Linked DNA regions of Homo sapiens. The protein of the gene in region 3 interacts with the protein of the main gene of each other region in a pairwise test. Each region holds a gene or a part of one and is shown on either strand. Other genes may lie near its edges.

Evidence for each region.
Region 1: the proteins of ETV7 (region 3) and WT1 interact in a two-hybrid assay, tested with the Homo sapiens proteins (one large-scale study listed by BioGRID and IntAct).
Region 2: the proteins of ETV7 (region 3) and IRF4 interact in a two-hybrid assay, tested with the Homo sapiens proteins (one large-scale study listed by BioGRID and IntAct).

Annotation. Positions count from the first base shown.
Region 1 is NC_000011.10:32,411,540-32,415,039, forward strand, and holds part of WT1 (Wilms tumor protein), read right to left. Parts: intron 1-3,500. UniProt on the Homo sapiens protein: Transcription factor that plays an important role in cellular development and cell survival. Recognizes and binds to the DNA sequence 5'-GCG(T/G)GGGCG-3'. Regulates the expression of numerous target genes, including EPO.
Region 2 is NC_000006.12:394,752-398,251, forward strand, and holds part of IRF4 (interferon regulatory factor 4), read left to right. Parts: intron 1-69; coding exon 70-256; intron 257-1,095; coding exon 1,096-1,184; intron 1,185-2,356; coding exon 2,357-2,501; intron 2,502-3,500. UniProt on the Homo sapiens protein: Transcriptional activator. Binds to the interferon-stimulated response element (ISRE) of the MHC class I promoter. Binds the immunoglobulin lambda light chain enhancer, together with PU.1.
Region 3 is NC_000006.12:36,374,170-36,377,669, forward strand, and holds part of ETV7 (transcription factor ETV7), read right to left. Parts: intron 1,867-3,500; coding exon 1,702-1,866; coding exon of another isoform or gene 1,661-1,701; intron 1-1,660. UniProt on the Homo sapiens protein: Transcriptional repressor; binds to the DNA sequence 5'-CCGGAAGT-3'. Isoform A does not seem to have a repressor activity. Isoform C does not seem to have a repressor activity.

The DNA.
Region 1 (3,500 bases), on a different chromosome or scaffold from region 3:
AGGCTTTTGGGGGGAGTTTTAATTTCCTTCTCTGCGTAGTTGTATTTTCTAACTGTTCTATAATTTATACACATTACTTACATAATAAAAAAATTCAATACATTCATCAAATGCATGTCCAAAAATAAAAGGATAGAAAAGGCCAACAGCCAGGGAGGAGAAAGAAGAAGCAGAAAAGTGAGAAGCAAAGGAAAGAAGCTTCCGAATCAGTCCACACTAAGTGAGAGGGACACAGAGCTAAGTCACGAGTCTCCATCTTTATCAAACCCTGGAGTCCCATTCTTCGTTCTGGTTGGCAGGGTTAACAGACCTCAGGCCAAGTCCAATGCAAGGCAATAATAAAGAAAAAAAACTCTTTAAATGGCATTAAATGAAACTTTAAACGGTGGAAAATTAATAACTTGTTGCTGGGGGTGGAGATGGAGTAGGCTCGGCAATGCTGATATTCACAGAACTGAGGCTCCCCACCTTCACTTTGCATCTCAGGCTCCGGGAGCCACTTAAAAGCAAGCTATCTATTTCCAAGAAGTAAATCTCTTGGACGGATACCTTATGTTCACGAGCCCGCGAGGGAAGGTGCTGGGCTGTGTATTGGAGCTCCCAGCCAGAGAAGACAGCTATCTCTTTTGGCACAGGTTCTCAGGGATGAGACCATGTCTAGCGGGGATTTTCTCCAGATTCGACAGCCTTGGCCCTACCAAAACGCACAGCTTTGTTTTCACCACACATCACTCATTGTTGAGTCTTTTTTGTTTTTCCTCTCAAGCATCCACAGGTTGAATACTGTGTGTTCCCAACAGCCTGTGAACTTCTTGGACCAGCAAAGGGACATTCATTTTGCTGAGCACTCCTTTCACATTTCTATTGTGTTCGATTTCCCACTCCCCCTACCCGAGTCCCCAGAGAATAACTTCTTCCTTGTTTTAATAACTTGGATCACAGTCAAGGTTGATGTGTTTCTCCATTTTGCAGGATATTTTCTTCAGAAGAGACAAAACAGAGGCCAACAGGGTAGGAGAGGCTTGTTCGGAAATCAGCAGCCATTGAGAACACACAGAAAATGTTTTCAAAGAAATAGAAAGCAGATAACACAAGGCACCATCAATAGAAGGCTTCAAAATGGTGGACTCATACTCAGAAAGATTCCCCAGCAACGTTTTCTCCCAGGGACCCACTTTAAAAATCTAATTTCATTTGTTTGGGGGTGAGGGAGAAGAAAGTACTTTCCGTAAAGTACCTTCTCACTGACTTAAATTGAAATACATTCTCCCATTGGAGGTCATAAAAGTAGCTGTGATCCCAGTGGGTATGCAGAAATTAGAAAATGAGTAAAGGGAGAAGGAGGAGAAAGGAGCGGTTCAGTCACACAAGTATATCCCACCTCTAACACAGCAAGTTTTCATTTCATCTGCCCATGTTCTTTATAAAATCCTATCCCCACCCATTGTAACACTGCTCCCTGACATCTAATGAAAGATGTCTCCGTGGACTTGCTTGGGATACAAGGAAACAAACCTATTCTTTGTGAAGCCACTTTTTTGAAACGAAACATTTTCAAGGAAAGAAGACCCGAACCAGCATTTAGTGGGGTTTAGTCTGAGGTGCATGATCTTTTAATAAAAAATTGATAATGCCTCTTTTTTATGAGTGATATGGAAATTACATCTTTCTTCTCTAAAACATGAACCAAATCACCAGTTTTTCCTGTAATAGATCAACCTTGTCACATGATTTTTCTTAACATTGATTTCAAACAGTGTCAAGACACTAGTTATGAATGAACACAAAAAGTTATGTGTCTGAATTTGTCTTCATGGAATACCTTTTCTCAAATGTATTCTCCATATTAATACTTTTCATACCATGGCAAAAGAAAGTAAATCCAGTATCACAAAGAACAATGACCCCAACCCAGATTGGTCTCCCCTGGGGAAAGGCCAAACTTTCTACTGGAATTACAGATTCAACTAAATCCAGTTCTGGGCTGTTCATGAGTTTGGAGGAGACAGCCAAGGTGTCACCATGTTTGAATGCTAAAAGTGAGGCAAACTGTGGGTCATGACACATCAGTGGGTTGTAAAATCAATCTAGTACATCACAATCAGCATTTTAAAAAATGAAATAGGATAGAGAGAAAAAGTCAGCATGCAGAGCATGTCATAAGAGTATTGCTCAGTGAAAATCTATGTTGTGTGTGTGTATGTGTGTGCACATGTGTGTATATGGGATCTCACTGTAAAGGGTATTTCTAACTGTGGTCACAGTCTAAAAGGTTTCCACCCATTTAAGAAGCTCTAATCTAGGGCCCAGGTCCTGGAGTCAGACAGAACTGATTCCAACATGGCTCTGCCACTCACTTACTATGTGACCTTGGTTAGATAGCTTAATCTCTCCACCTCCTCAGCTAAAAAATTGGATGTGGCCATAGTGTCCTGGGGGTGTTGTAAGATCAGATCAGAAGAGGAAACATGTACAGCCCCTCACACGGCACCCAATACTGTTTATATACATCCTTAGATAAATGTCCAGTTCACAAAATGGAAGCGGAAATTCGTGGATTTACAGTATGTTCTACAGTGTGAGAGAAGATGGTAGGCAATTAGCTAATTGTAATTTTTGCTCTGCAAAACAGTTGTTCTTTTGTGGAACTATCTGTTGGGCCATCTAGCCCTTTTTATAACAGCTCCCTGAATAAAGTTAATATTCGAGAAATATACATATATATTGTGTTTGTTTGTTTTGTTTTGTTTTGTGGAAGGGTCTCACTCTATCGCCCAGGCTGGAATGCAGTGGCCTGATCTTGGCTCACTGCAACCTCCGCCTCCCAAGCTCAAGCAATCCGCCCACCTCAGCATTCCAAGTAGCTGGGGTTACAGGCATGTGCCACCACGTCTGGCTAATTTTTTTGTATTTTTTGTAGAGAAAGGTTTTCACCACATTGTCCAAGCTGATCTCAAACTCCTGAGCTCAAGTGATCCACCCACCTCAGCCTCCCAAAGTGCTGGGATTATAGGCGTGAGCCACCATGCCAGGCCAAGAAATACATTTTTAGTCAGGGCGCAGCAGCTCATACCTGTAATCTCAGCACTTTGGGAGGCCAAGTGTGGCGGATCGCCTGAGGTCAGGTGTTCAAGACCAGCCTGGCCAACATGGCGAAAACCTGTCTCTACCAAAAATACAAAAATTAACCAGGTATGGTGGCAGATGCCTGTAATCCCAGCTACTCAGGAGGCTGAGGCAGGAGAATCACTTGAACCCAGGAGGCAGAGGTTCCAGTGAGCCAAGATCGTGCCACTGCACTCCAGCCTGGGTGACAGAGTGGGACTCCATATCAAAAAAAAAAAAAAAAAGAAATACATTTTTATTTCAGAAATCCTTTCTAAGATGTAAGTAACGGACCAATGAAAACTCTTCTCATTTTTTTCTTATGTAGGATTGAACAGAACAAATTGTTCACACTTTGTGCTTCATCCTTATAATACAGCTTCTGCCTCCTCAGC
Region 2 (3,500 bases), about 36 Mb from region 3:
TTCCAAAAAGAAAGCTAATAAACCAGACATGTATTTTGACTTTTCGTTCTCTTCATTCTTTCCCACCAGGCTTGGGCACTGTTTAAAGGAAAGTTCCGAGAAGGCATCGACAAGCCGGACCCTCCCACCTGGAAGACGCGCCTGCGGTGCGCTTTGAACAAGAGCAATGACTTTGAGGAACTGGTTGAGCGGAGCCAGCTGGACATCTCAGACCCGTACAAAGTGTACAGGATTGTTCCTGAGGGAGCCAAAAAAGGTAGGGGCTCTCCTGAATTTGGGTCACCTAACAGAGGCAGCCAGATCCTTGAGGCACCTTAACTTCATTCTGAGCATCACTTTCTAGCTTTCCTTTTGTATTGCCTGCCTGCCTGCCTTCTGCCTCACAGTGAAGCCCAGCCTCCTTGCCTGAGTTATGTGGGTCACAAGTTGAAATTCCTGTGGGGTTCAGCATAGGAGAATTAATCACACTGTATGCCTCAATGTATATGGGGGGGGGTGCATTGAATATGTGTTTTCCAGTTAGTCTTTCAAAAAAAAAAAGAAAAAAGAAAACTGGATAACTTGTTAAAATTTACTTATCTAATAGTCTTTAGTGAGTGACTATTTTGCAGAAAAGGAGTAATGAGAGGAATATCTCATCACTATGCATGGTAATAAAACTGTCAACTTTTAAAGTGTAACATGGTCAGCTGAGGTGTTTATTAAAAGTCAGATTCCTGGACCCCTCTTTTCAAGATTCTGACCAGTGTGTCTGGAAGAGAGCTCAGGAATCTGCATCTGGAACAAATCCTTCAGGTGACCTCACTTGGGAAACATCTGGCTGGCGGGGTCCTTTATGTCACAAGGCACATTCGCATGCCATCTGTCATGTATTTCTTTACCTGTCCTGTACAACTCAGACCTTGTAGAAAAAAATCAGTTTAATAGCATGAAAAAATAACTTCCCAAGGGAGTTGCTGAAAAATACCTTATTTGTCAACACCGTGTTATGCATTCTAAGAATTAAATGCTCAGGTATTTTTACAAGATTTGACATTTAGTTAGGTCAGTTCCTGTTTTTACGTTGTGCCATTTCCCTTTTCCCCAAACATGTAGGAGCCAAGCAGCTCACCCTGGAGGACCCGCAGATGTCCATGAGCCACCCCTACACCATGACAACGCCTTACCCTTCGCTCCCAGCCCAGGTATGGTGGAGGGCACTGGGCTCCCTGAGGGCGAGGCTGTGTGGGCCAGCTGCCCACATGGCCAGAGAACCACAGCAGCCCAGACAGCAGAACTTGCCATTTGCTATGGCTGCTCCAACAGCCCAGAAAAACCCCAGGTCACTGAACGAATGTCTCACTTTCCACACGGTGCTGCCATTGGTGTGGATTTTAAGTTGGGGAGGGTCGGGCGTGTCCGCCTGTTGGAATATGCTTCTCAGGTCTTCTGGGAAACAGATGTTTTGTGGAAGTGGAAGATTTTGGAAGTAGTGCCTTATCATGTGAAACCACAGGGCAGCTGATCTCTTCAGGCTTTCTTGATGTGAATGACAGCTTTGTTTCATCCACTTTGGTGGGTAAAAGAAGGCAAATTCCCCTGTGGTACTTTTGGTGCCAGGTTTAGCCATATGACGAAGCTTTACATAAAACAGTACAAGTATCTCCATTGTCCTTTATGATCCTCCATGAGTGTTTTCACTTAGTCTGATGAAGGGTTCACTCCAGTCTTTTCGGATGATAAAATGCTTCGGCTGTCAGTCTAATAAGGGATTCCCTGAGGAGTTTGGAGGCTGTAAGAGCACCCCCCGTCTCAATGCCAGTGCTTCTTATCTCAGCCTCTCCTGCACTCCTTTACCCCCGTCTCGATGCCAGTGCTTCCTATCTCAGCCTCTCCTGCACTCCTTTACCCCCGTCTCGATGCCAGTGCTTCCTATCTCAGCCTCTCCTGCACTCCTTTACCCCCGTCTCGATGCCAGTGCTTCTTATCTCAGCCTCTCCTGCACTCCTTTACCCCCGTCTCAATGCCAGTGCTTCCTATCTCAGCCTCTCCTGCACTCCTTTAACCCCGTCTCGATGCCAGTGCTTCTTATCTCAGCCTCTCCTGCACTCCTTTACCCCCGTCTCAATGCCAGTGCTTCCTATCTCAGCCTCTCCTGCACTCCTTTACCCCCGTCTCAATGCCAGTGCTTCCTATCTCAGCCTCTCCTGCACTCCTTTACCCCCGTCTCGATGCCAGTGCTTCTTATCTCAGCCTCTCCTGCACTCCTTTACCCCCGTCTCGATGCCAGTGCTTCCTATCTCAGCCTCTCCTGCACTCCTTTACCCCCGTCTCAATGCCAGTGCTTCTTATCTCAGCCTCTCCTGCACTCCTTTAGCAGGTTCACAACTACATGATGCCACCCCTCGACCGAAGCTGGAGGGACTACGTCCCGGATCAGCCACACCCGGAAATCCCGTACCAATGTCCCATGACGTTTGGACCCCGCGGCCACCACTGGCAAGGCCCAGCTTGTGAAAATGGTAAGGAGGATACCAGTGCAGGAAATAGAAGAGCTAATTGCTAATGTGGCCATGGGCCATGGCGAATCCTGGTCTGTCCTGGGCAGCACCAAAGCTCTTTCCCCTTCTTAGAGGCTGCGTGTGCAGCTCGGGGAGAGGGGGGTTTTCTCACTCCTGTGGGATGGTGGCATCCCACAGCCAAGTTTACTCTCAGGATCCATGCTAGGCACTGCCCTTCGTGGGATCTTATTTAAACACCACAGAGATCACTCCAGGCAGTGGAAAACAGCCCCCCACTTTTTATATAGAGAGGAGATTGTGGAAGCTCATAAATAATAAGTAGGGATGCTGGGAGATTATTGAGCTGGTATATTTCTCTCGAATAGTGGTGTGTTCATTGTTGCTATTGTTGGAATTAGAGGTGATACTAAAAAAGGAACGGAAAAATACCATGGCAAACACATAAAACGTCTCTACAGGTGCCTACCTACCACTGGGTCCCAGAAAGACTTGCTGATTGTGGATTAGATGTGGTCCCCTGCCCTCGGGAGTTCCCCAGACATCAAAATGAGCTCCCTCAGCAGAAGCTCTCATTAGCTGGGTGCAGGGAGAATCTAGCAATGCGGTAACTCAGGCCTTCAGGACTTTTGAGTTAGTTACTTAAATGGAAGTCCTGAGACAGGTCAACACACTGAACCCTTTGGATGTTTTAGGAATATTTGTTCCTTTGCAATTTGGCCTTTTTTTCCCCAGTCATGTTCAGGTTATCCTTGGCTGCAGGTAGTGAAGAGGTGTACCACTCTTTAATGTTTGTACTGAGTGGCATGTTCACAAAAAAGCTCAGAATTCAGTTGCATTGGCTTTTCAAGAGGGATTTGCAGCAAGGGCTGGTTTCCAATATGGTAGTGGAGGAATTGGCTAACATAAAACTAGCTCCTGAAATTCAGACTTGCGTTTACTGCTCTGGCTCTATGGAATTAGTAACCATGGGAAAGAGGCAATGCTTAGAACTGTGTAAAG
Region 3 (3,500 bases):
CAACATGGATAGACCCTGTCTCTACAAAAATTTTAAAAATCAGCTGGGTATGGTGCGCATATCTGTGGTCCCAGCTACTTGGGAGGCTGAGGCAGGAGAATCACTGGAACCCAGGAGGTTGAGGCACAAGTGAGCTGTGTTCACGCCACCAAACTCTAGCCTGGGCAATAGAGTGAGACCCTGTCTCAAAAAAAAAAAGCCAGAATTGGGCTCTGTCCTTGGTCCCAGAAATCTTCTTTGACTCATACCTTGGGCTAAGGTGCTGATAGTAGGGCAGGAAAGAGGGGATCTGTGGGTAGAGAGCCAATCTGGGGATCCCAGGCAGCCAGAGGGATACAATGTAGACAGTGGGCACTCGAGGACCAGGAGTGCTTGTAGGAAGGTGGAGAGACGAACAAGGGCATGAAGGGGACCAGCCCCAAGCTCACCTGCTTCCCCGCTTTGCCTCAGTGCAGGACCATCAGGGCTGTGGGGAAGCTGGAAGCCTTGTCTCTCTGTCCCTGCCCTCCCCTCACCTCCCACTAGAGCTCTTGAATCCAAGCTCTTAGAGAGACGAAAGTTCCAGCAGCTGCTACAGGAGGCTCACAGTGGGAAGTGGGTGATAGAACTTGGGATGTCAGCTGGGAGCAGTGGCTCATGCCTGTAATCCCAGCACTTTGGGAAGCCAAGGTGGGCAAATCACCTGAGGTTGGGAGTTTGAGACCAGCCTGGCCAACATGGTAAAACTCCATCTCTACCAAAAATACAAAATTAGCCGGGCGTGGTGGCAGGCGCCTGTAATCCCAGCTACTCAGAATGCTGAGGCAGGGGAATCGCTTGAACCTGGGAGGCAGAGGTTGCAGTGAGCCAGGATCGCGCCACTACACTCCAGCCTGGGCGACAAAGTGAGACTCCATCTCAAAAAAAAAAAAAAAAGAACTTGGGATGTGACATGAGACTGGGCTGTATGTGTTAGGTATAAACAGGCAAATCAGCAGATTTCAGAACGTCTCTTTGCCAAATACACTGTGGGCTTGCTTGGCCAAAAGACAAGGAACACAGAAAACATGAGCGAATTCTTAAGAAAAAGACACCAAATCAGCACAAACAAAAGAGCCACTGAAAACAAGCCACACAAGACTCAGATGCGATTCTAGAGGTTCCTGGAAGGCCCTGCTGCCCGCTACCACTGGCCACCCTCCCTCCCACCACCAGTCCCTCCCCACAAACTCCGTGCTGCTGGAACACCATCATCTGACATTCATTCCTTTGCCCTCAGACCTAGTTTCTGGTTAAAATCAAAAGTCATATTGGAAGTCAAGGATTTTGCTGTTACCACCCATTTATACCTCAGTGTGAATGAATATTTGATCTTTCTCTAGTTGGTTTTTTGTTCAGTAGGGGTAGCGGGTGGGAGGCAACAGGATGGAAGTGGATAGAGGAGACAAGGGCCACAGATAAAGGGAAGAGAAAGCGAGAGAGCAGAACAGGCCCCTACAGCTCTGAAAACAAGTGGTCAAATGGACTCCCTTGCTGAAGGCCTGCTCTAGCTAGGAACCACCAGATACACACGTATGCAGAGGGGCATCTGCAGTGCTGGAAATGAGCATGATTCCCCAAGGAAGACCCCTCCATCTCCCTCCCTGGGCCCCCCGGGGGTACTTGGGCCATCCTGGCCTACCAGGGTTCCCGCTTAGAGGAAAGCCTGTGCGTTTCCCTGACCTGAGCTGGGCGCACGGTGCCGGAAGTCGTCCTTGGTGAGGATGCAGAGGGCGCGTCCGTTCATCTCGAACCCGTGCTCCGCGGTGCATGGCAGAGAGTACTCCTGCTCTGCCCAGCGCAGCCAGTGCAGCACGTCCTCCCTGCTCCACAGTGCGGGCTGGATGCCTGCAACCAGCAAGGACCAGTCCCATCACTCCCCGTCGGGCCTCCTCAAAGAAGCCCACCCTGAACACTTCATCTGAGCAGATGCTCCCCTGTCCTGGCCCCCAACCCCCATCATCTTCTGTCGCTGCCACCTGTTTCTTTCCTTCCTAGCATGTTACGTTCTTTGTAATTACATTTTACATTGGATAGAATTATGTGTTCGTGTTTGTCATTATGTATGTAGCATGTATTTATTCACTTATTTATTGTTGGTACCTCCCCACCACCTGTTTTCCAATCATTCATTCAACAAGTGTTTAACGAGAACCTACTATGTGCCAGCACTGGACTAGGCGTGCTGGAGCACACTGTTATGTGTATTCAGCACCTAGAACAGTGCCTGGAACACAGTAGGTGCTCAGAAAACACATGTTGAGTGAGTACTTGAATGACTGAACAACCCAATGAAAGGGGTGTTACTGGCCAGGCGCGGTGGCTCATGCCTGTAATCTCAGCATTTTGGGAGGCCGAGGCGGGTGGATCACAAAGTCAGGAGATTCAAACCATCCTGGCCAACACGGTGAAACCCCATCTCTACTAAAAATACAAAAATTAGCTGGGCATGGTGGCATGCACCTGTAGTCCCAGCTGCTCGGGAGGCTGAAGCAGGTGAATCGCTCGAACCCGGGAAGCAGAGGTTGCAGTGAGCCGAGATCATGCGACTGCACTCCAGCCTGGGCGACAGAGCGAGACTCCCTCTAAAGAAAAAAAAAAAAAAAAAAGGAAGGGATGTTATTGTTTCCCAAATGAGGCAGTGAGGCTCCCAGAGGTTAAGTGACTAGCCCACACGCATACAGGCAGCATGGGGCACAGCCGGGCTGTCTGGCTATTGAACTTTTCTGCTCCATTGTGCCAACTTGGAATCAGGTTTGCTCAGGGAACAGCCCAGGGGACAAAGGGAGCCTCCTACACTCACCTTCAGTGCATGTGTTTTTATTTCTGGCAGTAGCCAGACAAGTGGCTGCTTATTCTCCCCACGTTTCCACTTTGCCTGGGACTGCTACGCTCCTAATGCCAAGTTTTGGATAGTGTTCAGCAGGGCTACGTTACGACTTCATGAGCCCTTGACACATTTGCCTTTGTGGGCAAAAAATATTTAAAATACACTGAGCGTGGTGGCTCCCACCCGTAATCCCAGCACTTTGGGAGGCCAAAGTGGGCAGATCACTTGAGCCCAGGAGTTTGAGACCAGCCTGAGCAACTTGGTAAAACCCCGTCTCTCCAAAAATACAAAAAAGAAAATTTAGCCGGGCATAGTGATGCACACTTGTGGTCCCAGCTACTTGGGAAGCTGAGGTGGGAGGATCGCTTGAGCCCGGGAGGTCACAGTGAACCATCATTGCGCCACTGCACTCCAGCCTGGGTGACAGAGTGAGACCCTGTATCAAAAAAATACATAAATTTAAATCCTATTTTATGACTGCACTGGTGTAAAGACTCAGAGCTCACTGGGTTCAGTTCTACAGGTAAGAAAGTTGAGGCAGAAGAGAGAAGCAACTGTCCAAGGCCACACCTTGGCAATGATAAAGACCAGACCAGCCTCTGCTCCCTTATACTCAAAGCAACACAGGAAATGAACTTAATTTTAACATTTA